2 separate regions of the Homo sapiens genome follow, and region 1 is linked to region 2. Evidence: fine-mapped expression QTL. A gene starts in region 2. The other region holds a variant in brackets. All regions are shown on one strand. Distances are from middle to middle. Region 1 overlaps VPS45 (vacuolar protein sorting 45 homolog). Region 2 holds the start of LINC02988 (long intergenic non-protein coding RNA 2988).

Region 1 (11,880 bases), 74 kb after region 2:
ATAATGGATAGTTCCACTTTTCTTTTCCAATAGCTGAAGTTGTAATTTCCTTGCTGAAAGAACACTTACTATTTCCACGACTTGAATCAATACGGCACAACAAAACTGACTAGTTGATTTGCAAAACCTACTGCTTTCTCTTAGTATTAATGATTGACCAGTGAAATGGAGACAAGTTGGTAGAATTTTACACAGACTGGGCTTGATCTCTAAGAAGCATCAGAACATGTCTCAACATGGTTGACAGAGATGAGTATGTAATAGCATGTAATCTCTAGATTTAGTACTTAATGATTTTAAGAGGCAGGTACCGATAGGAAAGGGGGCCAGGAGAAGCCATGTTTACATTTTTTAATCCTCATATTCAGGACCTTCCATATAGTATAGATTTATATTTATTATGCAGCAGAACAAATAATTTAATTCAAGTCAACAAATACTTTTGAGTCCCCATAAGGCAGTATGTCATGCACTGTTGCAGGCACACAGATAAGTTAAAGACAATTCCTGTCCCCAGTGAGTTCACAGTCAATGGGGTGAAGGATGATCAAAGTAATATAATTTATTCTGCTATATACATGTTTCTTTAATGTACTTTAGTTCTGTGAGATGGATAAATATGGAAATGGTGTCAGTTTAACACAGAAGGCATATTGGTTCACATGTAATTTTTCCAGAATGGATAGGCTTTCTTATGATTAAAGGGGAAGCCTTACCAATACCTTAAGAAAAAAAGATGATAATCCTACAGAAGTGTGTTCTGCAAGAAGTATCTGGTTTTGTAGCTTCAAGAACTGTTGCACTTTCCACTGTGTTATGCTATATGGGGAAAGGGCAAGTGCAAATAAAAAGGATGCAAATATATTGCACTGTGTAAAAAAGCAAAACAAAACAAAATAACAATCAAACACTGATTGATGAAGAAAGCTGTCTCCATATGGTATTTTTAATTTTGACAAAGTAGTCTTTATGAGAAGTGAGTATTTTCAAGACCTTATAATTTGAAGAAAACATGAGCCCCAGGAATAAGGCTGCAGAGGATGGACTGGCTCTATTTCTAGGTGCAAATGCCGGTGGAGATTTAACCATGCTAGTATTTTTATTATAATTGTTACTATTTTTATTAGGGCTCTGATTTAAAAATTATATGAATGTTTTCTTTCTTTCTATAGTCATGTAGATTTTAAGTGGTCTGCTTATAACCCTATATTCTCATAACCCTTTTTTTAGTGCATGTTTTTATAGAATATGAGGTTTTTCAGGAACAAATATGTGGTGTTATAACAGAAACATGTATGCAAAAAACAAAACAAAAAGCAAAAGCTGAAAATCAGTGCAAAAGAGGAAGGGGAGAGAAAGGGGAAGAGAAAGTATATTGGGTTGTTGAGAAATTAGGAAAGACTTCACAGAGGTGACACTTGCCAAAGGTCCTGAAGAATCAGTAAGTATTGGAACCAGTGTGAGAGACCAAAAGCAGTGGCACTATCAAAATAAATATGGAAATCAGAGGAAGAAATGGCTTGGTTTGAAAGGCTGGCAAGAGCCTTGAAGGGCACTGAATTCTGAGGACATAACTATCAACTATATGATTACTTTACAACTTACAAAATGCTTTCACGTACATTATCTCTTTTGTACCTGACAACAACCATGTCCAATGTCTAAGAGCTCTTCTGTTCACACTGACTAGGGACTATGATGATAATGGGGAACCTCCCATGTAGCTTTCAAGTACAGAGTTCTCTGAAAGAGATTTCTATTGTTGATTTTTTGGGTTACTATTTCACTACCATCATCCTTAAGGGATCAAAAAGGGAGAAACTTCTCTTCTGTAGATTTCGATCCCAAATTCGTAAGATTTTTCTTATTTTTTTCCTTTCATGGGATCTTTCCCCTAGAGCAGCCACGGAATACAGCCCATTTAGGGTATCTGTTCAAATGTTCCACTATTTTCTACTATAATATGAAGAAATTTCAGGTACAAATTATGTATGTATCTCAATCAACAGCGTAAGTTTAAAACATTAAGAAATCCTGTTGGGGGCCGGGTGCCATGGCTTACACCTGTAATCCCAACAATTTGTGAGGTCGAGGTAGGTGGATCACTTGAGGTCAGGAGTTCGAGACCAGCCTGGCCAACATGGTGAAACTCCCTCTCTACTAAAAATACAAAAAATTAGCAGGATGTAGTGGCGGGTGCCTGTAGTCTCAGCTACTCAAGAGGCTGAGGCAGGAGAATTGCTTGAACCTGGGAGGCGGAGGTTGCAGTGAGCCGAGATTACGTGCCACAGTACTCCAGCCTGGGCGACAGAGTGAAACTGTCTCAAATAAATAAATAAAAATTTTAAAAAATTTTTTTAAAAAGAAAAGAAATCCCATTTGGGATTTCTGTTGTTACTTTTCTTATAGGCACAATGTCTCATTTCCTGCCCTTGCAGTCACTCTCTTACCACCTTTTCTGGCTGATCTGTCTCTGTACTTTTAAGCAAATCTGAGAAATCCAAGTAACTATAAATTCACAAAACTGGTATGATGACAGTCAAAGACTATTTGCAGTAATCAGTCTCTGCCCTTTTCTATTTACCTTCACTTGGATCTTGACTCTTGGCTGTTTCTTATTAGAGATAGTAAGTGTTGTTGATGATGACGTGGAGAAATAAGAACCCTTACACACAACTGGTGGGAATGTAAATTAGTACAGCCATTATGGAAAATAGTATGAAGATTCCTTAAAAAATTAAAAATAGAACTACTATATGATTTAGCAATCTAACTACTTGGTATATATCCAAAGGAAATGAAATCAGTATGTTGAAGAGCTATCTGCACTCCTATGTTTACTGCAGCACTATTCAAAATAGCCAAGATATAAAATCAACCTAAATGTCCATCAACAGATGAATGGACCAAGAAAAGCAGTATTTAGGTCGGGCACGGTGGCTCAGGTCTATAATCCCAGCACTTTGGGAGGCCGATGCAGGTGGACTGCTTGAGCTCAGGAGCTGGGGACCAGCCTGGACAACATGGTGAAATTCTGTCTCTACAAAAATACAAAAATTAGCTGGGCATGGCAGTGTATACCTGTAGTCCCAGCTACTGGGGAGGCTGAGGTGGGAGAGTAGCTTGAGCCTGGGAGGCAGAAGTTGTAGTGAGCCAAGATTGCACCACTACCCTCTAGCCTGGGCGATAGAGCCAAACCCTGTCTCAAAAAAAAAAAAAAAGAAAAAAGGGAAAAGAAAATAGCAGCATATATATATATATATATATATTTATTATTCAGCCATGAAATAGAACAAAATCCTGTCATTTGTGGCAAAACAGATTAACCTGGAGGACTTACATTAAGTGAAATAAATCAGACACAGAAGGACAAATAGTGCACGATCTTACTCATATGTGGAATCTAAAAAGTTGTTCTCATTGAACTCATAGAAGTAGAGAGCAGAATAGCAGTTACCAGAGGATGGGATGGTGAAGGATAGGGGTGGTTAGAAATTGGTTAATAGGTACAAAGCTACAGTTAGATAGCAGGAATATGTTCTGGTGTTCTATTGCATAGTAGCATGAATAGAGTTAACAATAATGTATTATATATGTCAAAATAGCTATAAGAGAGGTTTTTAAATGTTCTTATCGCAAAGAAATGACAGATGTTTAAGGTGATGGATATGCTAATTACCCTGATTTGATCACTACACAATGTATACATGTATTGAAACATCACATTGTATTCCATAAATCTGTACAATCATTATGCATCAATCCTAAAAAAAATCCACTTCCATTCCTTGAGACTTGGTAGTGGTATTTAGATTGCCTGGCTTGACTCTTAGTTCTTGACTGAGGACTTGGCCCAGATCTGACCAGGCTTACTGCGAGTAATTATTTTGCCTACTTTTGAGCCCTTAGGACCCAACTCATGGCTCAGGTCCATGTTCTAGCTAGAGGCATCTATTCTCTCATGAAAAGAAACCTGTAGGTACAAGCTGAGTTCTTTCTTTTCTTTCAGCTGTATCAGTCCTTGGAGACGCAGGACCTTTTTGTCTGCCTTGATCCCACTTTATCCTTTGACTTCATTTTGAAGGATTTCCCTCATAACTACTTGACTTGTCAACTTGATTGACAGTGGCATACATTACATTGAGATTTCAGGGCACTAACCAGAGAAGAGGAGAAAAAAGAATCAGAGAGGCTTATAATTACAAAGCAAGTTATATGCTACACGGTAGTATTTATCTGTTGGAAATTAACTGAATTACATAATTTTTTGGTTTCTCTTATTAAATTTTCCATCAGCCTTGTGACTATTAGAAAAGAACACTGTCACATTATAACAATGACTGAGTAAAGAGCAAAACAGAAAATTGTCATCTACTTAAGAAGACAGGATTCGAAAACCTTGCACTGAACTCTAACATTTGTGTGGGCGTAATCAAGGAATAGGAAAAGCAAAGCAAAGCAAAGCAAAAATAGTGTCTTTGGAGATCAAGTTTCCTAAAGGAACTAACATTCATTTATAAGACATCAACGAGAAAACCATTCTTCTTTTCTGATATTTAGAGATTCTTCCATTGTTTCTGGCTAAATCTTTTTTTACTTTTCTGTTTTCTTCTATCAAAACTATGATAAAGCAGCACAGCAAGAAGAAATCATTATGACATACACACATTTCAAACTATTATACAGATTACAGTTGGTCTTGGTAATAAAGATAGTCTCCGTCTTTTTTTTTGTTTTAGTTTAACCTAAAGAACAGGATCCCTTCTTTGTTATCTACTATATTAATGTAGTAAAGTCAGAGAATAACAAAATAAACCAACAGATTAGGACAGTAAGATGGAATTGGCAGAAGACTTCCACATGCTGATCTGACAAAAATGAGCCTAACAGTTTGAGAGAACAGTGTTGTGGGAATATAAAAAGCTTATCAGGGAAAAATGATAGAAAGCAGACAAGACCCAATTCTACTGACTGGTAAATACAT[C/T]GGAGCCAGTATTCCTTTTCTTAATGACTAGTCAACATAAAATTGAGCTTTGCAGTAGATCTTCTGCTGATCAATACTATTTCTAAAATACTGGCTAAATGTTGTTTTAGAGTAAAAGGATCATTTTTACATTTAATTAATCAAAGTAAAATTGTCAGTCAGTTCAATGTGTCCCAACCACTTTTCTTATAATTTTAATGAGTGGCAAAACAAAACAAAACACACACACAAAAAAACCAAACACTTTTCTGAAATCAGAGAGATACAAGGCTATCACTGAACTAAAAAACATGTCTTGGATGCCATTAAGAAAATTAAATGTACCATCAAATAATAATACTCTTAATGTTGGTAGTTAATATTTCTTGAAAGCTGTAAGTACCAAGTACCATAAGTGTTTTACATGTATTAGCTCATTGCACTCTCACAACAATTCTGAGGTAAGTACTATTATTTTTCCCCCTTTATAGACAAAAGGACTGAGTTTTAGAGTGGTTAGGAATTATTTTCAAACCCAAGCCATCAAAGGCCCAAGCTCTTAGCCACTACTCTATACTGCTTCAAATAGAGCTCTTCCTCCTCATTTTTCTAATAAATATTTATTGAGTCCTTATTATGTATCATTAACAGGATGATTTGAGATCTTTATGAAAGGTCAGGAAAAAATACAAAATAGACTGGTTCCTCTCTCCAAATGAAAAACTGTGATATGACAACACAGGCTGGGCATGGGGGGCAGGGTATAGGGAGGATGGTAAGGGTGGAATTGCTCACTTTCTAAAGATGCTTTTCTTCATGGTATGGCAAATCTTCATTACTAATTAATAAATCTCTTCTGAGGATATGTATATGTTTCAGTGGTAGTAAATTTCACTTTGGTTCTAGTGAAATTCTTTCTAAATGAAATTTTCATTAGCCTACAAAATAATGGTTAGAATGGCAGCAATTTTTAAGTTAACTTTTAGCAATACATGCTTTTTTTTCTTGTCATGATACTATTCAATAAAGCAAACCCCATCTCTACTCACAAACCTCATTTCATTGCTTCATGACGTATTATCATCTAAGGTCAAGCCAAGGAATGCTATAACCCCTCTAGAAGTCAGGCCCCTGACATCCACTTACTATCAAACAAAAGATCCCTTTATAGACTATTTAAGTTATGTTGCCAAATAAGTCGTTTATGATGGGGGACTCCAAATCAACTGCTCACTGTAAAATCCCAATACCCTAGACAAGAAAACCTTCAAAAGATAAGTTCTAAAAATAAAAAGTGGATCACAAATAGAATTTATATTTTTAAAGTGACTATTTTTCTTTTAAAGTGAACACAAAAATAAAGTTTCAGACAAGTTATTACAAGAACTTTTTCTAATTGCTTTCCACATGTAGAGAGATACAAATAAAGACAGTAAAACTGGCTAGTGATTAAGTCTGGTTCTACTGTTTTCAAGGGAAAAATCAAATGATAAAGAAATATAAGAAATTTAAATTTAGTTACGGGACACAATTTTGTTTTTTATTTAATAAGAGGCAGAAAACTCATTTTTTGTGGTAAATATCAGGACATTTCTATTAGGCCCACAAAACAACTATAAAATACTATTAGTAGTGTTGTTTAAAGGCCAAGTTAAATAGATTAGGATACATCTTTACAAAGGATACTATTTAGTGATTAAAAAGAATGCGACTTTAGGTTCTGATCCAAAACCCAACAACAATAAGTCCCAGTAAAGACCCTGGTATAACTAGAGCACCCACAGGTAGACTTCTTTCTTTTGTTTGCACTATGTGTAAAAAAAAAATCATGCTTAGAGGAAGGGAACTAACATTTACAAAGCACCTATTACATGTGAAGCATTTTACATATCTCATTGAATCATCGTAACAGTCTGAAAGTTTGAAATCATAATCCCCAAGACTTGGGCAAATCAAGTAATTTTCCCAAAGAAACTTTGGTAAGGAGAGGTAGGATATAAGCCAAGCCAGTCTGGGTCCAAAACCTGAGTTGTTTCCAATATAACAGGTTGGCATTATTTTATAGAATAAAGTGGAACTGTAGCTGGGAAAGAAAGAAGCTAAGCTTTAGAATATAGGGCCCTATTAACAGGGAAATGTGCTTCTTATAAGTGGCTTAGAAATGGCTATTTCCTAAAGGACTCGTAGTCCTAAATTACTTGTCAGTGACATCATACTTTGTCATTTCTCAGGAAACATGGGATTACCTCTGATTTATTCTATCTTTATATCCAGCCTGTCGTCTAATTCTTCTCCCTTTGAAATGTTTTTCAGTTCAGCCCCTTGCTGTACATTTTTACTACTATCACTGTAAGTCTACAAGTCTCTCTGACCTGTTTTTTCACCTCTAAAGCATCCTTACTAGGTTACATTTCCTAAAATACTGCCTTCCTCACCTCAACTTTCTACATAAGATCCTATACTGGATCTCTTTGCTTATCTCAGCAGGTATAAATTCTTACAAGCCTCTTCATAAAGCTTGTAAACTGTTTTTTGTTTACCAATTCAATTTTATCTAATTCTGTTTCATACTCACTCTCTACAGGTCAAACTGTTTATTACTTCCTGCATATTTCTACATCTTTGCTTTTGCTGCTCCTGGCTGAACTCCTTCCCCAAATTCTATTCATTCTTTTGTGGTCCATCCAAATCTTGCCTTCTCTAAGAACTGTTCCTAATAACCTCAAAACCTGTTACAGTCAGTATTACAATTATGACTTAATTCTCATCTTGAAACATTATCTAATTTTTTCTTGTGCTTTAGTTTTGTCTCTTCAACTAGACTATACATTTCTTGAGGCCAGAGTCTGATTATGTTGCTATTCTTCTAAAATCCTCCGGGAGCCCCCATCATTTTAAGATTAAAGCCCAACTTCCTTCCAATGGCCATAACCTGGCTTCAGTCAGTCTTTCCAGTCTAAGACCACTCATCTTGTACCCTGGACTAGCCACACTGAACTATTCTCTGTTCCCATATATATATTTAAATATATGTATATTTCAAATATAAATATTTTATATATATATAGAAAATATATATATATATCAATATTTATTTCTTCACATCTTCATGCCTGCATTCTCTCTGCTGAGAATGTTTCTTCCTTTTCCCTGTTTGATGTTATTTTCCCTAAGAAGTGCTAAGAAGCTTCATCCTTGGGGAAAACAGTTGTCCTTCCTCTGTATTTCCATATTCCTTTGTAAATACCTCTAATATAGTACATAGTGCTTGGTATTACAATTGCTGGTTTAAATTTCTTTCTCCCCTACTGTAATGTGGTATCTTATTCATCTTTGTATTCAGATCCTCACAGCAGTAGTATATACATATAGCAGGCATTAATATGTTGGTGCGATGAAAAGCAGATCTTCAATAATGAAAAAACTTAGACAATACATTTTAATATATGTTTTATCTTTTAAAGTCTTCCTAACCACTCTGTGAGATGAGTATTAATATACCTATTTTACAAATAATGAAACTGGCTCAGAGATTAAGTCAACAGCTCCATGTCACAAAGCCTGTAAGTGGTATACCAAACACTCCAATCTAGATCTTCTGATTCTAGTTTGGTGCTCTTTCTAGTAGACTAGGCTGCCCTTATACTAATTAACTGAACCCTTGGGAATTGCACATTACACTTCTCTTGTGACTCTTTTTATAGATCTATCTTAAATAATATTAATTTGTGTTCTCATGTCAGCTCCTTGTTGGACTAAATTCCATGTTGATGAAGAAGGATTACTTGCCTTTTTATCTCTTGCTCTGCCTGGCACAGTGCCTTACACATAGTAGGTGCTCATCAAATTGGACTGACCTGGAGAGCACTAGAATGGTCATTTTGACAGGCCAGTTCTTGCTCAACCTCTGAAACCTCCAGCAGATTCCGTTCACTGACCAATCGAGACAGTTCTCCAACCACTGTCACATGCTTTGAAACAGTCCCAGACATTTTCTTGAACTGTGGATAATTCTCAACAAACGCCTGCCATGGGAAAAACATCAATGGGAGGTTCTGTTATTTTTTGACTGAGGATAAGCATGTACTGAATGGGGGTTGGGGAAAGCGGGGGTTGTTTTTCAGCCCAGATTAAAGCATCTACAACTTTCAGCCACATGGCATTTTGTTATGCTTAAGAAGAGAAGAACTGGTATATGTTGGTAGACTGAGTTTTTTTTTTTTTTTGAGACAGAGTTTTGCTCTTGTTGCCCAGGCTGGAGTGTAGTGGCGTGATCTTGGCTCACTGCAACCTCCCAACCTCCGCCTCCCAGGTTCAAGCGATTCCCCCGCCTCAGCCTCCCGAGTAGCTGGGATTACAGGCATGCGCCACCACACCTGGCTAATTTTGTATTTTTAGTAGAGACGGGGTTTCACCATGTTGGTCAGGCTGGTCTTGAACTCCCGACCTCAGGTGATCCACCCGCCTCGGCCTCCCAAAGTGCTGGGATTACAGGCGTGAGCCACTGCTCCCAGCAATAGATTGAGTCTTTAAATAGTCCAGATATTACTGAAGAATGGAAAGAAGCACATGGCTTATCATAAAGTTTTCACTATATTGTTTAAAGACATTACAGAAAATAAGTCTCAAACCAAATAAAATCAATCAAGGTAGAAATTAGACCCAGAAGATTCCAAAAGTGTTGCTTACATGAATAGTACCAAACTGTCACATGTTTGTCATTCATGTACATGTTCAATTTACCTTCATGTCTGCTATTGATTCTAGTTTTTGCTGTTCTTTTGGTTTCTTCTTCTGAAAATCTTCCATGAGATTCTTTATATTGCTACCAATCTCAGCAAAGTTCAGGTACATATTCTGTGAAAAAGAAAGTTGGAAGCACACTTCATCAACTAGTCTGACTTTCAGACAACTTGAAAGAAGTGAAAAAGAATTTGGAACACAGAATTGAAGGGCAGGGAAATTCTATTTTAATTACCAAATTTGGACATTAGCTGGGACACTGTTGATGAATACCATTACTATTCTCACAAACAGCTACTGGAGGGGAGAGAAGTAAATAACTACGTGATCTCTATGAAAAAAAATTGCTAAAGGGTCAGAATCCAAGTCTTCTGCCTTCCCTTCAGAGGCAGTTTATGCACAGGATGCCCCTATCATCCTTTCACATGAAATCCCATGCCTGCCCCTATACTAACAAGCCAATATTGATCTTCTTACATAAAAACAACTAAAGACAATTTAAAAAAATTTAAACCACCTACATTAGCATAGAATTCATCATTTTCAGCAGATAGGACCACTTCTCTTAAGTCTTTACTGATTCCCGGCACTCTGGAAAGATCAATCCGATTGTTGTTTATGCCTAGTAGTTCGTGGACCATGGCCTGATATGTCCACTAAATAAAGAATTATGAAAAAAAAAGGTAACTGACAGAATATGGAAATAGTAAACGTTCAGGAAAACAAATAAAAACTGATAACATTCTTTAACTAGTCTTCTTTACATGAAGATTCTCGAGTTAAATTTTATTCATACTTTGTGCTATAAGCATTAAGACTGTCATTTTAATTGATTAAACACTGAAGAAAAGTCAAAATACTTTTAGATTTCATACTTTTGGAAAAAGGGCAGCAAGATTAATATTCTTGATAGAAAGAAAACAAATTAGAGCTATTATTAGCTCCAATTTTTTGCCTGTGAATTAAGAGTATATTTTTGGCTTCACAGATAGAGCTATATTGGTACTGCAGTTACAAGCTGTACCATTTCCTGTATGCTTCTATGGTTTTCTGCAGCATGAGAAGTGTGTTCTTGCAGATCTGAGTGGTACTATATTTGTCCTGGGAACACTAATATTATCAGAAAAACCTTGTGAGTTGATCAAAACACTGGGATATTCAGAAACTTACCTTTGAACCCATTTTATTTTATATTTTTACCTAAGGGGAGATGAGAGGAAGGACTGGTTTCCAGTCTCACAAATTGAGAATTTATTTGGTAAAACTGGAAATGAGAAATCTCCAAATTTTCCCTTTTCACCAATTATGGAGAATAGATTACTTTCAGTCATAGGTCTGTTAGACAAAATGAAGTATTTTCTAGCATGTTCCCTTCTGCATCTAGAATCTAAATGCTAGAAATATTTATATACATATTTTATCTTAAGAAAACTAGATTTATTAAGAAATAATTTAGAAGGTTATAAAAGAAGGTGCTTATTTCCTAAAAGATTTGCCAAAGGAATTCTTGAAAAAGCAAGTTCCATTAAGTCGCACTTAAAATAAGTACAACAAGGCTGGGCATGGTGGCTCATGCCTGTAATCCCAGCACTTTGGGAGGCTGAGGTGGGTGGATCACTTAAGGTCGGGAGTTCGAGACCGGCCTGACCAACATGGTGAAACCCCATCTCTACTAAAAATACAAAACTAGCCGAGCATGGTGGCACATGCCTGTAATCCAAGCTACTCAGGAGGCTGAGGCAGGGAATCACTTGAACCCAGGAGGCGGAGGTTGTAGTGAGCCAAGATCACACCATTGCACTCCAGCCTGGACAATAAGAGCAAAACTCCATCTCAAAAAAAAAAAAACGTACAACAAAATGTTTTATGCTTTTATGGATAGCTTCTTGTACATGCTTCTAGCACTTACTCTACAATTAAAATTATGTTTATTTTTCTCATAATTGGACCATGAGCTCTTTGAGGACAGAAATTGTAACTTTTAACCTTTTATCTCTAGTACTTAGTTTAGTACGTGGCACAAAAGAAGTCCCCAGTGAAATCTGTGGGATAAATAGTTGCTTTTCTTTGGGAGACAGAATAATAGGCAATTAATTTTCTTTCTACTTTTTGATATTATCAAAAGTTTCTTTGGTGAACATATATTACTTTGAATTTTAGGAATACAAGGCTAT
Region 2 (11,880 bases):
TTTCTGTACGATACCAGTGCAGCTGAGTAACAGCCAATTCCTTTGTCATTGTGTGCTTTGTTCTCCTGTGCATTTTTGGTGTGTTTTAATTTTAATGTTAAAAATGGACACACTGTTATTGCCCATCCTTATGGGGTACAATTTATCTCTGTACTTTTCAAAAGCCTGAATTGTTTCACTGACCAGGTGGTCCCTGCCATCAGCACATTCTCCTAAATTACCAATGGTGAAAGTTTTTCTTGCTGGAGACTGTTCTGGTCTCTTATTTTTCTGTCAAATTCTGCTTGCAAACTGAAAAGTTTCTTTTTTAGTTCCTCTTTCCTGCAATACCTTACCAATCACAGCTAAGAAAAGCCTGTTGCTACTTTTAACATTCTGCCTGGAAGTCTCTTTAGCTACCTCCAACAAATTTATTAGGTATATTTTCTAGCTCCCAAGATACCACAGGTGACAGTTTTGTGAATGATTCCACCGCCATATAACACGGGTGGTCTTTCTCCCGTCTCTGAGAGCAGTTTTCTCCCTGCTCATCCAGACTCTGTAAGTCTCCTTGCTGCCCTTCTAGGCTGTCTGCTGCTGGGTCCCAAGATCAATGCCACTTGTTTCAGGTTTTAGTTAGGGCAGCATCCCACTTCCAAGAAACAATCTTTGTTTTAGTATCTATTGCTGAGTAACAAACCACCCCAAAACCTAGTGACTTAAGACAGCAATGGTTTGTTAGTTTCTCACACTTCTGGGGGCTGGCCGAGCGGCTGGTCTCTGGTCTTGCTTGTGTGCTGCTCCAGCTGTGTCTGACTGGAGGCTTGGATGCTGGGACAGAGCCATGTGGTTTCATGGTCTCATAGCAAGGATGCTCGCCCAGGCTTCTTAGAAGCACCTGAATTTTAAGAGAGTAAAGGAGTGGAAACTACAAGGCCCTTTAAGGCCTAGGCGCTGGAACGTACACAGCACATGTTCTTTGTTCTATTGGGCAAAACAAGTCACTGGCAAACCCAGATTCAAGCAGCAGTTGGAGAGAAAGCAATACCTCTCAAAAGGGAGGAACAGCAAACTCATATTGCAAAGGAGCCTGGAGTGGGGCTGGTTCACTGAGGATCATTATTTAGTCATTTATTACATTTATAGTACATTTAAGATGCATGTTAGATACCCAGGTAAAGATGTCAAGTTGACACTTAGCTCTAAGTGCCAGAGAGGGAAATTTAGGCTGGAGAAATAAATTTGGGACAACACATCAACATACAGATTTGGTGTGTCTCGGAATCATCCTGCCCTTAGGGTTGCCGGCTGCTGTATAAGTCTGGACTGTGCATGAATTGCGGTACAAGCGGAGTGCGGCCCTCTGCAGCCAGAGCTGGGTGGAGGCTGGGGCAAGAGGAACATTGTGTTTTTGAGTCCACTTCCCTATTTGTGCACAGAGTATTCCACTAGTGTTCTCTTCCCTGCCTCCCCCACTTGATAGAGCCAAAAACATTAGGGATGGTATTAGGACAACTGACCTGCATGCCAAGGACATAGGACAGGAGACTATGCCACTGCCTTGTTTTGCCACTTCAAATCAGGAACCTTAGGAGAAAGGGGCTGTTTGCTGTCATGGCTTTAATATCTGGAGGAAGGGAAAGAAAGAACGGACATGAGCCTACTATTTCTGAAAGAAAGGGGTGATTTCTGAGCCATCCCAAACCAGCAGGAAGGACAGGGGTGATAACCCCAACTTGTTCACAGCAGGAAGCAAAGAGGAGAAGGGATTTGGTGTCGGAGACCATGACAAAGGTCAAGAGTTCTAGTGCTACTTGCCTTTCTATGAGTTACTTTTCCTCATATTAAGTCCTTATGAAAGCCGCCTTATGTCCATGGTTTCTGTAGCTGCACCAGCCTCTACACTTCTGATAGTTCAGGAGGAGTTGGGAATCTGTATTCTCCAATTGCTCCCCAACCTTAATGCACTTAACAAGTGTGTTCTCCACACTTTTTAACCCTCCAAAACCCCGTTTTTAAACTGGTCCTGCTAATTTTTGCATTCTCCCCATCCTTGCTTCCAACCCCAGGGTTGGGGTGAGGTTGGGGTGGGCCATGTACAAGACTTTCTGGCTCTATCTCTCATTTCCTGAGCAGAGCTGGGCTGCACTAATTGACCTCGAGGGTCTCAGCTGTTCTAAGTGGGGTGTTTGTTAGCTCTTGTTAGGCTTGTAATTAGTGCAAGGAATCTAGGTCAGAGGCAACGGGTTGGAGTGATGGTCTCCTGGGGCACGACTAAAGGTGGGGAATAGCAAACAGCCTCCTCATTCTGTGGGTGGGACTTGTGTCACACAGAGACAAATAGACACAGGGTCACATGCAGAAAGGCGGTCAAACTCTGCTGTGTGTGCATGAGTATGTGCATGAGTATGAGTGTGTGTGTGTGTTCGCTCCTGCATTTACTCGGGTTTCTTTCCAACCTCTCCATATATGGCGTGGCTCTAGAGCAGGCTGGGGATTGGCTGCTCCTGTTGGGAGACAGGGAGGTAGTAAGAAAGCAGAAAGAGAAAGGAACCCAGCGTAGAGAAGGGAGTGACGAAGTGGGGGGTGGGGGCAGTAGCTGAGCTTGAGGGTTGCAGAAGTGGGCTGGGACTGCTTGCCTGTGAGGTTTAGATAGAAGAGAGATTCTTAGAGACTCATTTCCTGGGAGAATGAGGCAAATTTATTACTGGCAGAGGGGTTGGGAGAGCGGCTGGGGAAGGAGGCGAGAGCTGTTTCCCCAGGGACAGAGCTCTAGGCTCAGAACCGCATAGTATGTGAGGACCAGGGCAGGAGTTAGAGAAATTTGCACCTTTCTTTTCTCCCTGGTAAACCTATGCTGTGGAGATAGAAGGAAATCAACTCATCAGCGTTCCAGGCCAACACCCCAGACATTCTTCCTAATGGAGGGAGCCGGGACTGCAGTTCCTTTATCCCTCCTCAGGCCCCTGGCTAACAACCTGATGGGGAAGGACAGGAAAAGTTGAGGAAAGTGTCACTGAAATGAGAATTAAGATTTCGTTCTTTACCTGCCTCTACCCCTCACCCCCTCTCAACTCTGTGTCCTGGGTTCCACCCCTTACCCCGTCTCCCCATCCTAGGGCCTCCGGAGGGCACTTCCCTTTGCTTCATCTGTGTAAGAAAAGAAGGGAGCAGAGCGGTTGGGAGTGGAAAGGGAGGGAGAATAAGTGCACCCTGAAAGTGTCTGGGGGCAGCTGTGTGCTGAGAAAGTTGCCCCACACAGCTACTGAGCCAGCCCATTTGCCACGCATCACAGTTACCGGGGGCACGGAAGGGAAATATTGCAGGCAGAGGGGCTAAAATGATGAAGTGAGGGAGGAGAAGCACTGGGAGGAAGGGAAATGAACGTAAGCACCTTCCCATCCTCCTGTCACAGTGCCCAGGTTCAATACAAATGCTTCAACAGAACTCATGCCAGCAGCCTACCACAAGGGTGCACCTTAAGCGATTTTTCTAGTGGGAAGCCTGGTTCCATGCTAAGCTCTAAAGTTCTTGAAGACCAGGGACCATGCTTTCATCCCTTCTGGCTCTCTCCTCTGAAGAGAGAGGTCCAGCACAGCCTGTGGCCTGGATCTAGCTAAGTGACAGTGACCCCACCCCGGTGGCCTCATTCACACAGTGCTCCTTCCAACTGAGCTAGCGGCTCACTGCCCAGAGTCAAACCAGTAACAGTAGCTGCAGTGGTCACTTTCTGACTGACAGGCATTTTCCATATTGTCCTCACCCATCCAATAGCTCTGCAGCTTGCAGATGAAAAAAACTGATACTCGGAAAGCATGTGCCTTGCCCAGAGCCTCATAATCAAGAAGTAACAGAGTTAGAATTTGAATCCAGATCCATCTGGTTTCAAAGCTGGGCTCATTTCACCACCCTAGGGCCTGGATGTTCCAGTAACTGCTGGAGAACTGGAAGCTGTTGGTTTTAGAGCCTGAAGCCCAGGAGCACAGTGCCCAGCTCCTCTCTTACTGTTGTGAGGTCCCCGATCTTTCTTTTCTGCTTCTTTCACCTGTCATTCTCCTCTCTAGTGTCTCCCTCCATCTTCTGGCTCCCCTGGGAGCCACAGATAATTGACATGTTGGGATACACATGTCATTTGTGCTTTTGTCTTTTTTCATTATGTGGGAGCAACAAGGAAGAAAAAAAGAAAAGGAAAAATGCTGGTAAAATACAAAGATAGAGACTTGTAAAAAGAAAGCATAATTCTACCTTAGACTTCAATACTTGTGACAATGGATGGCTCTGCTGACCATGCTTAGGGCTGTGGAGAGTGCAGCTATTTGAAGGACAGGAAGTCTGGAAGCCTGGGTTCTCACCTCATACCCCAAGAGACCATAGAATGACATGAAGGTGGCACTCTTGCACACTTTCCCTCACTCAACTGGGATACACATTCTTCAAGGAAGAGGCTAGGTAACTACAGTCTAGAGCTGGGGACAATCTCCATGACAGAGTGGCAAGGGACTAGAGAGAGCAAGAATTCCTCTGCCCTAGGGATGGTTTAACAGCAGTGATAAGGTCCAGAGAAGAGCTGTGAAGGAAAGAGATGATTTCTGGAAAGGGGACAGAGGCCCCCATTTTGCTTACATGGGTTGTAGGAGTGACGTTAGAGCAGAAGAATGCGGACTGAAGAATCTGTTTCTCCCACAGGTTTTTCCCCCGCTTCCTCCTATCCCATCTTCCTATAACATCGGGGCAGCGTCATGGCCAGGTCTACATGTAACTTGGCCCCGTTTCCTCCCCCTCCTCCCCTTACCTCTAGTGAAGCCCCGCTGCTCTTGGAGGATCAAGCAGCTAGCAAGGCACACTTCAATGTGGCTTTTAACCCCTCATTTACTTGATTCATGAGACTCTGTCCCCTTCTTTCCCAAAATCAAATTATTCCCTTCATAGCTCTTCTGGGGACCTCACCGTTACTAAACCTCATCTCACACACTTCCAAGGAAAGAGTGAACAGTGAGTTGTGTGGGACCTACCACAGACAAGAATGTTGGGAAGCCTGGCAACTTCAGAGGTGGCTGGGAGGGTGGTGGCGTGGGCATCCAGATGCTTTTCTAAAGTGGGGACTTGCTTAGTGATGGAAGAGGTTTGAGGAAGGAGAGGGGGAGGCTACAGGAAACCTCAGCATGGCTGAAAGAGGAACTTGGACAGATGTTTGGTTTTCCCCTTCATCCTACCCAGCTTGCATCACACACCAGTTTCATTCTTAGTTCAGTTCTTCTGTGGGGTCTGTCTCTAGTTCCCCTGTGCTAGGGCCCTGAATCAAATAATGAAACTAGTCTCATCCACTCAAGGTTGGATTTTTTTTTTTTTTTTGAGACGGAGTTTCGCTCTTGTTGCCCAGGCTGGAGTGCAATGGCACAATCTTGGCTTGCTGCAACCTCTGCCTCCCAGGTTCAAGTGATTCTCCTGCCTCAGCCTCCCGCATAGCTGGGATTACAGGCGCCCACCACCATGCCTGGCTAATTTTTTGTATTTTCGGTAGAGACTGGGTTTCATCATGTCGGTCAGGCTGGTCTCAAACTTCTGACCTCAGGTGATCCACCCGCCTTGGCCTCCCAAAGTGCTGGGATTACAGGCGTGAGCCACTGCGCCCGACAAGGGTGGATCTTTGAGTCAAGGTTGGGAAGGGTGTGGAAGATGAAGGGAAGAAACACCTCATGTAAGAAAATCCAGGCAGCTCGATCTCAATGAGAGACTGCTAGGAATGAGAAGCCAGTGTCTGGCTGGGGAGATTTTAATTCCACAAATCCTCCTCAGGGCTGGGATAAATTTCACTTCCATGTGCACGGACAGGTGACACTGGCCTCCACATCCCTACAACTAGAGTTGGGCAGCTGAAACTTCACCCTCAAACTGAAGGCCTGGGGTGGGACATAACAGAAAACATCCTCATCCCCCTCCCGCTCTAAGCTTAGAAGCCCACTGTATCCTTGGGAGCAGCAGTGGACTCCCTGTGCCGTCTTGGGGGCGGGCGGTGTGTGGAGTGGTCAGACTGTGTCTTTACCGTGCCTTCTCTCTCTCTGGCTGGGTAAAAACTTCCTGCTACTGCTGCGGGGTCACTTCCTCAAACCTGAGGGGCATACGAGGGGCATATGGAAAGTAGGTGGGGCAATAAGGGTTGTAGTGGGGTCAGGCATCAGCAAGAGCAATGAGTTCATTTTTGTTTTCTTTTTTTGATTGAGGTAAATAAAAAAGCTTTATCCAGCAACACGGAGATAAGAGTCTGTCCAACCCGACAAGTTCCAGACCCCACCCTGCCCTCACATCAGGCTCTTCCGGTACTGACTGTGCGGGGTGGTCTGTCTGAGGTGGGAGTCCGGGGTCTGCAGGTCCATCTGTCTGTACAGGTCTCTCAGCTCCCTGACCTCCTGCAGCACCCTCTTTGCCTGGCTCCAATTCGATGATGCCTCTCCCAGCAGCCGTTCCGTCTCCAGCAGCAGCTGCTCTGACTCAGAATCCGGCGGAGACCGAGGGGGGTCCTTGGCCTTTCGCTTCCCATCTCCCAGTCCCTGAACCTCTGCCAGAAGCTCCTGAGTCTCCTCCAGTTTCCTTGCTACCAGGTCCTGGATCCGGGACAGCTGCCCCGGGTTGGGGAGGGCAGGGGTTGGGGGTTCCTCAGCCCGCAGCTGGAGGGTGCGGGCAGAGGCAGCATCCCGCTGAGATAGGATCTCCTCCAGGGAGGCGCAGCGGCCTTTCTCTGTGGGCGTCAACTTCTTGGGTGCCTGGGGGGTGTAGGTGGCCCCTTTGTCTGTTTTTTCCCAAGGTCGGGAGAGACTGCTTGCCCGGTCTGCGGAGGGCTGGATGCGGTCTGAGTCCGCTCTCCGCCGGCTCCCTGCCAGCTGGGCCACAGACTTGTCCAGGTCAACCCGAAAGCTCTCAGCACAAGAGGTTGGTTCCTCAGGGGAAGGGTCTTCCTCTTGGATCAAGTCCAAGGTCAGCATCCCATCCGAGGTAGAGGTGGAAGCCTGTGGAGGAAGGGGGGAATGAGTGGGGAACCTGTCATCAGGAGGGATTTTCGGAATGACTGCCTAAAAGATGCAAGCTGTGGTCATTTTCCTCTACAAGCCTTCCTTGAATGAGAAGTACTTTTTTTTAGAGACAGAGTCTTGCTCTGTCACCCAGGCTGGAGTGCAGTGGCACGATTTGAGCTCACTGCAAGCTCCGCCTCCCGGGTTCACGCCATTCTCCTGCCTCAGCCTCCCGAGTAGCTGGGATTACATGCGTGCACCACCACGCCCAGCTCTTTTTTTTTGTATTTTTAGCAGAGGCAGGGTTTCACCATGTTGGCCATGGCTGGTCTCAAACTCCTGACCTCAAGTGATACACCGTCTCAGCCTCCCAAAGTACTGGGATTACAGGTGTGAGCCCCCCTGCCTGGCAAAGCCCTCTGCTCTTGACTGAACCCTCCTACTGAATGTGCTGTTTCTTATTCCTTTGATAGTGACTTGAATGTTTCTTCTTCTGTGATTTAGTTTGTTACTTGTTTCCTGTATTCTCCACTCTACCATAAGCTTCCTGAGGGGCGCCCTCTTCCTTGGTATTGTGGACTCTCAGCAATTAAACTGCATCTGATGCACACAGGATGCTCCCCATGGCACGACTGTCCTCCTCCATCTGCATCCTCTGAGTCCCACACTTCAGCCCCCTTGCCTTATAATAAAATTTGTTCTCTTATTTCCAGAATACTAAAAATGATGAGTATTCAATACCAAATATGTTGTTTTAGTCATTCCTCACAGCAGCCCTTCAAGGCAGGCATGATTACTGCCTCATTTTACAGTTGGAGACATGCAACTTCAGGGAACCACACAGGTAGCTGATTACAGTGAGGTTCCAACTCAGGTTCTAACTCCAAAGCCTGTGTTCTCTGCATTATACCTGCCTGCCTCTCTCTCTGAAGACTTAAGAGCTCAGAGGCATGAAAGAAACTAGCACGTTGTATGTTTCAGGAGTTCATTGTGATCCTTTCTCCTCCAAACACCCGCGGTACTACATGTTGTTACCCATCAAGACAGCCACCATACAGTAGCTAATTTTTCATTTTCCTGTGGGTATAACTCATTTTCTCCGAAAGAGGGTAACATTACTGGGAGCTGGGACTTTTGAACTCCTAATGGGCGCTGAATAAAACCTTTTGATTTAGATCTGGCAGAGGCATTGGGTGGAAGGACTTCCCTCGCCTTTGATCTTGGCATCAAGGAGGCCTCCCGCAAATGCCTCTGGTGGCATACAGTTCTGTCTGAGATGGACTGACACAGAATTGGCCCTTTGGCAATGTTTATTACAGTCTTACATACCACAGCCATTAGGTGTCCCCTTGTTGGGGGGCGGCGGGAGTGCTGGATTTTTGCCCTGTCTCGAGTGGGATGGGCAAGATAGCTGTCCTCCTCAACGGTGACCTGAAGAGATGTACTGTGAATCATGAGTGCTCTTCAGCGACTCGCTGTCCCAACCCAGCATCCCGAGGCCTGAACATGTGCCCACTCCATTCACTGCTTCTGAATGGGCAAGGGGATTTACTGGACACGAAGGGGGCTCTTTAAGCTGACCCAAGGCTGGCTCCCCCATCATGAAGCGGGGAAGAGGAGGTGTCAGATGAGACTTGGAGAGAAGGTAGAAAGAGATCAGGGCTTTTAAAAGGGTGGTAAAGAAGTAGAGCTGGTGGAGGAGCGAGTAAACGGGGCCTGCACAATCCTCCCCCTTCAGTGGGTCACAGCTGTTCCCTCTGCCCCAGCGTTCCTCCCTCTCCCCACAGTGAGCCCCCTGACCTCATCCAAGATACGGTTCTTGGCTCGGGTGATGGCAGAGTTGAGGGCATTGATCCACGATTCCTTCTCTTCTGGACTCACTGCCAGGAAGATCAGGTTGGGTGCCTGTGAGGGGAAGATTCCTGTTTCAGCCAGGGTTTTAGAGGTGGTGCCTCACCTTGACAATGAAGAAATAAGAGATTATAATCTCACTTTCTTAGACCTAGCTCCAGGAAGGAGAGATATTCTGCTTCCAGAGTCATCCATAACTTAAGGAAACCCAGCTTCTATTCCTGCAAAATGCATAGCTAGGAGGTTGTTTTAGAAATGACCAAGGAGGAGCTAAGAAGGATACTGAATATTAGTATGGTATTAGAGATAATTAGAGGAAGTCTGATGAAGGATAGGTATTAAAATACAAATCTTTCAATGTTTGAAGAAATAGAATGTGACAGGAATAACTTCCCTGGGTTCCCTCAGACAAGATGAATTAGATTCAGAACTTCAACCACCTATCAGGGTACAAGGACAGGGATTTTCTTCTAAGGGATGTAAATATGCACATGTGTGGATGTGTGTGTATAAGACAGAGAAAAATAAAGAGATATATAGAGAGATGATCTTTGTGGCTGAACAGGTTAAAGGGTGGCCTGCCTGGAAAGAAGGAAATGGCTACAATATTCTCAGGTGAAATGATAAAAGCCAGCAGGAGAGCAATTCAGGGAATCTGAACCAAGATTGCTGAGAGAGAAACTGAGGGGAAGGAGTTCTCCCCTGCCCCCTCCAACCCTGTCCATGTTCCAGCAGCCAAGGTGGCAGGAGAAACATACCGTGTTACCGGGCTGTTTGGAGTGGGCAAGAGTAAACTTGCTATGATTTTTCTTGCTCCTGCTCTTGGACTTCCGGAGCTCTTCACACTTCTCATAGTCACTCAGGTCAAATACCTCTTGAATATTTTTCTCATCTTTTACCTAGGGGAGGGTTGGGGTGAGGTGAGGAGGATAAAATTATTTAGCCCCTCCACCCAGACTGTTAGTTTAGATCATCTTGGGAAACAGAGGAAGCCTGAGGAGAGGGAGGCACGCCAGGAGAGGAGAGGGCCGTCTGCCCAAAGCCTACAAGGTCCTCACATCGAGGAGGACGCTAGGGCAGCTCCAAGTCTTGAATGTTAAGGTGTGTTTCTGTTTAAACCCCTTCTCTTCACTCTCCTTAGCCAGGCTGCCATTTCCAGAGTCCCACTATGCCTCTCTTCACCAACCGCCCCACTCTTTTCCTTAAGGACACAGCTTACATGTTCTAAAAAGGCTCACGTCCTTAAAGGGACATGGTAGATGGTTGATCCATTGCCCTCAGTAAGACAGACCTGTATGGCCCTTGATGGTCCACAGAAAGAAGATCAAGGCAGGGCCAGTTATCGGGGTGTCTGGAGGGAACGAGGGGCGGTCTCTGGCCTCCCCACTCACATGTGTGCAGTATAGCTCTCCCACCCCACCTCGCTTCCTTCTCTGGTATGTACAATTATAGAGACTCATCTTCCTTGTTCATTTCAGGAGCATCGCCACCACAGGACGGCAGCCCCGTGTTCAGTTTGCTGAATTTGTCCAGAGAAGCTGAAAACTACAATTACAGTTCCTACCCTTTCCTCCTCCCTCTAAGGTACTGTGACAATCCAAACTAACTCCTCCAGACCCCCTATCTCTAGGCAAGAATGCACTTAGACTCTCCCTGGGAGACTACACTTTAGACTTGGAAAAAAGTGACTTCTGTGACTTCTTGCCATTATTCCAGTTTGAGTGCCTGGGCCCCCTTTACTGCCAGGAAGCTCTTCCTCCTATCTAAACTTAGCCCTCCCTGCTATAGTCTCCGTCCCGCACTCTGGTTCCACCTTTAGCAGGTTTTAAGCAACATTTAGCTCTTAGCACTCCTGCTGAACGTCTCATCGAGGCCGCATTCCTAGTGACATTCTCCAACCCCAACTAGCCTTTTCTGAGCACTGCAAAGCAGCTCTAGGAACATTTCTTCGCAGGTTCATCTGAAACTGACCACAATGTTTTCTCTTTTCCCCTAAGGTGGTGTTCCTACAACTCTGGGACTCTGAAGCAGTGGCTTATGGATTTGTTTTGGCTAGCAAGGACCAAAGTTACAGAGAGGAGACTTAGTTACAAGTCCAGACCGTGCAGTCTGTCCACCCTCCGTGGCTTGAGCCCAGGGTTGGAACACCTCAGGAAAAACCTGGTCACGTTTTCCTGGAATGAGAATTAAAAGCACCAGCACTTGTCTCATTAAAACTAAACAAACAGATAAAAGTAGCCTCACGTCTTCCTTGGATGACATCTACCCACCCTGACTGAAATTATTTTCCAAAACAGTCCCCAACTTCCCAAGTTCTGAAATAGGACTCGTGTGCATGGAGGTGAACTCATCTATCCTCCTGGTTCCTGGAAACCTGGAAGTGGGGAAGTGGTTCTCCCTTCCATTACCCAGACCATCTACAGTCTTGTATCTGCCCATCCTTCTGAACTGCTGCTGGACCTGGAGGCTGATGACAGATGAGGACAGATGTCAACATGGCCCCATTCAGGTGAGTGACGCCTCATACATCTACCTCCATTTGTTTCAGCAAGGCTTGGCTCCTCCAGGGCCTCCCACTTTCCAGGGTTCCCTGGCTTTGGGCTGGAAAGTGGCCAGAGGCCTTGAATGATTACGGGTGGAAGTAGGACAAGGTGCTGGCAAGGGGTGTCCAAGAGCAATTCCCAGAAACACGGGACAGGGATACAAGATGATGCATCATCCCTCCTCTCCCCCTCCTTCTCCAGAGCTGAGACTATCAGCAGAGCCCAGAAACCGTGGAGAGGAAAGTGTTGGGTGTGTGAATGTAGCCAGGGGAAGAGAGTTAACTTACTATGTTTTCCTTAGGGGAAGGGAAGGAAAGGGAGTTATTCTACCTTGCATACAGACTGATTAGGAGCTCTGGGGAGCAGGAGACACTGATAGAGGTTAGCCCTTGGTGGAGAGGGTGGGAGATGGGGTGAGGCAAGCAGTAGGACAAGTATATTCCAGTGCCTGGGAAGATGGACAAAGCCAAGCAGCCTTGTTCTCCACCATATTGTTTTTT

The links. PIP is the estimated chance that this variant, and not a neighbour inherited with it, causes the effect.
Region 1: its variant is fine-mapped to the expression of LINC02988 in whole blood (INTERVAL, PIP above 0.99).

The regions. Positions count from the first base shown.
Region 1 is chr1:150,079,824-150,091,703 of GRCh38, reverse strand. VPS45 (vacuolar protein sorting 45 homolog) reads right to left here. Exons shown (of 15, transcript NM_007259.5): 8 at 10,228-10,362; 9 at 9,707-9,820; 10 at 8,821-8,988. Among named protein-coding and RNA genes, the nearest start is that of VPS45, 18 kb to the right of the region's middle. The variant C/T (reference allele first, on the strand shown) is at 4,985.
Region 2 is chr1:150,153,922-150,165,801 of GRCh38, reverse strand. LINC02988 (long intergenic non-protein coding RNA 2988) reads right to left here and starts at 5,074. Exons shown (of 4, transcript NR_135098.1): 1 at 4,992-5,074; 2 at 1,500-1,606. PLEKHO1 (pleckstrin homology domain containing O1) reads right to left here. Exons shown (of 6, transcript NM_016274.6): 3 at 9,596-9,736; 4 at 8,787-8,891; 5 at 8,316-8,417; 6 at 5,737-6,983. The coding sequence ends at 6,279. RefSeq lists enhancers at 340-609, 790-839, 2,467-2,656, 5,005-5,314, 6,445-6,946 and silencers at 3,667-3,736, 4,325-4,394, 6,095-6,144.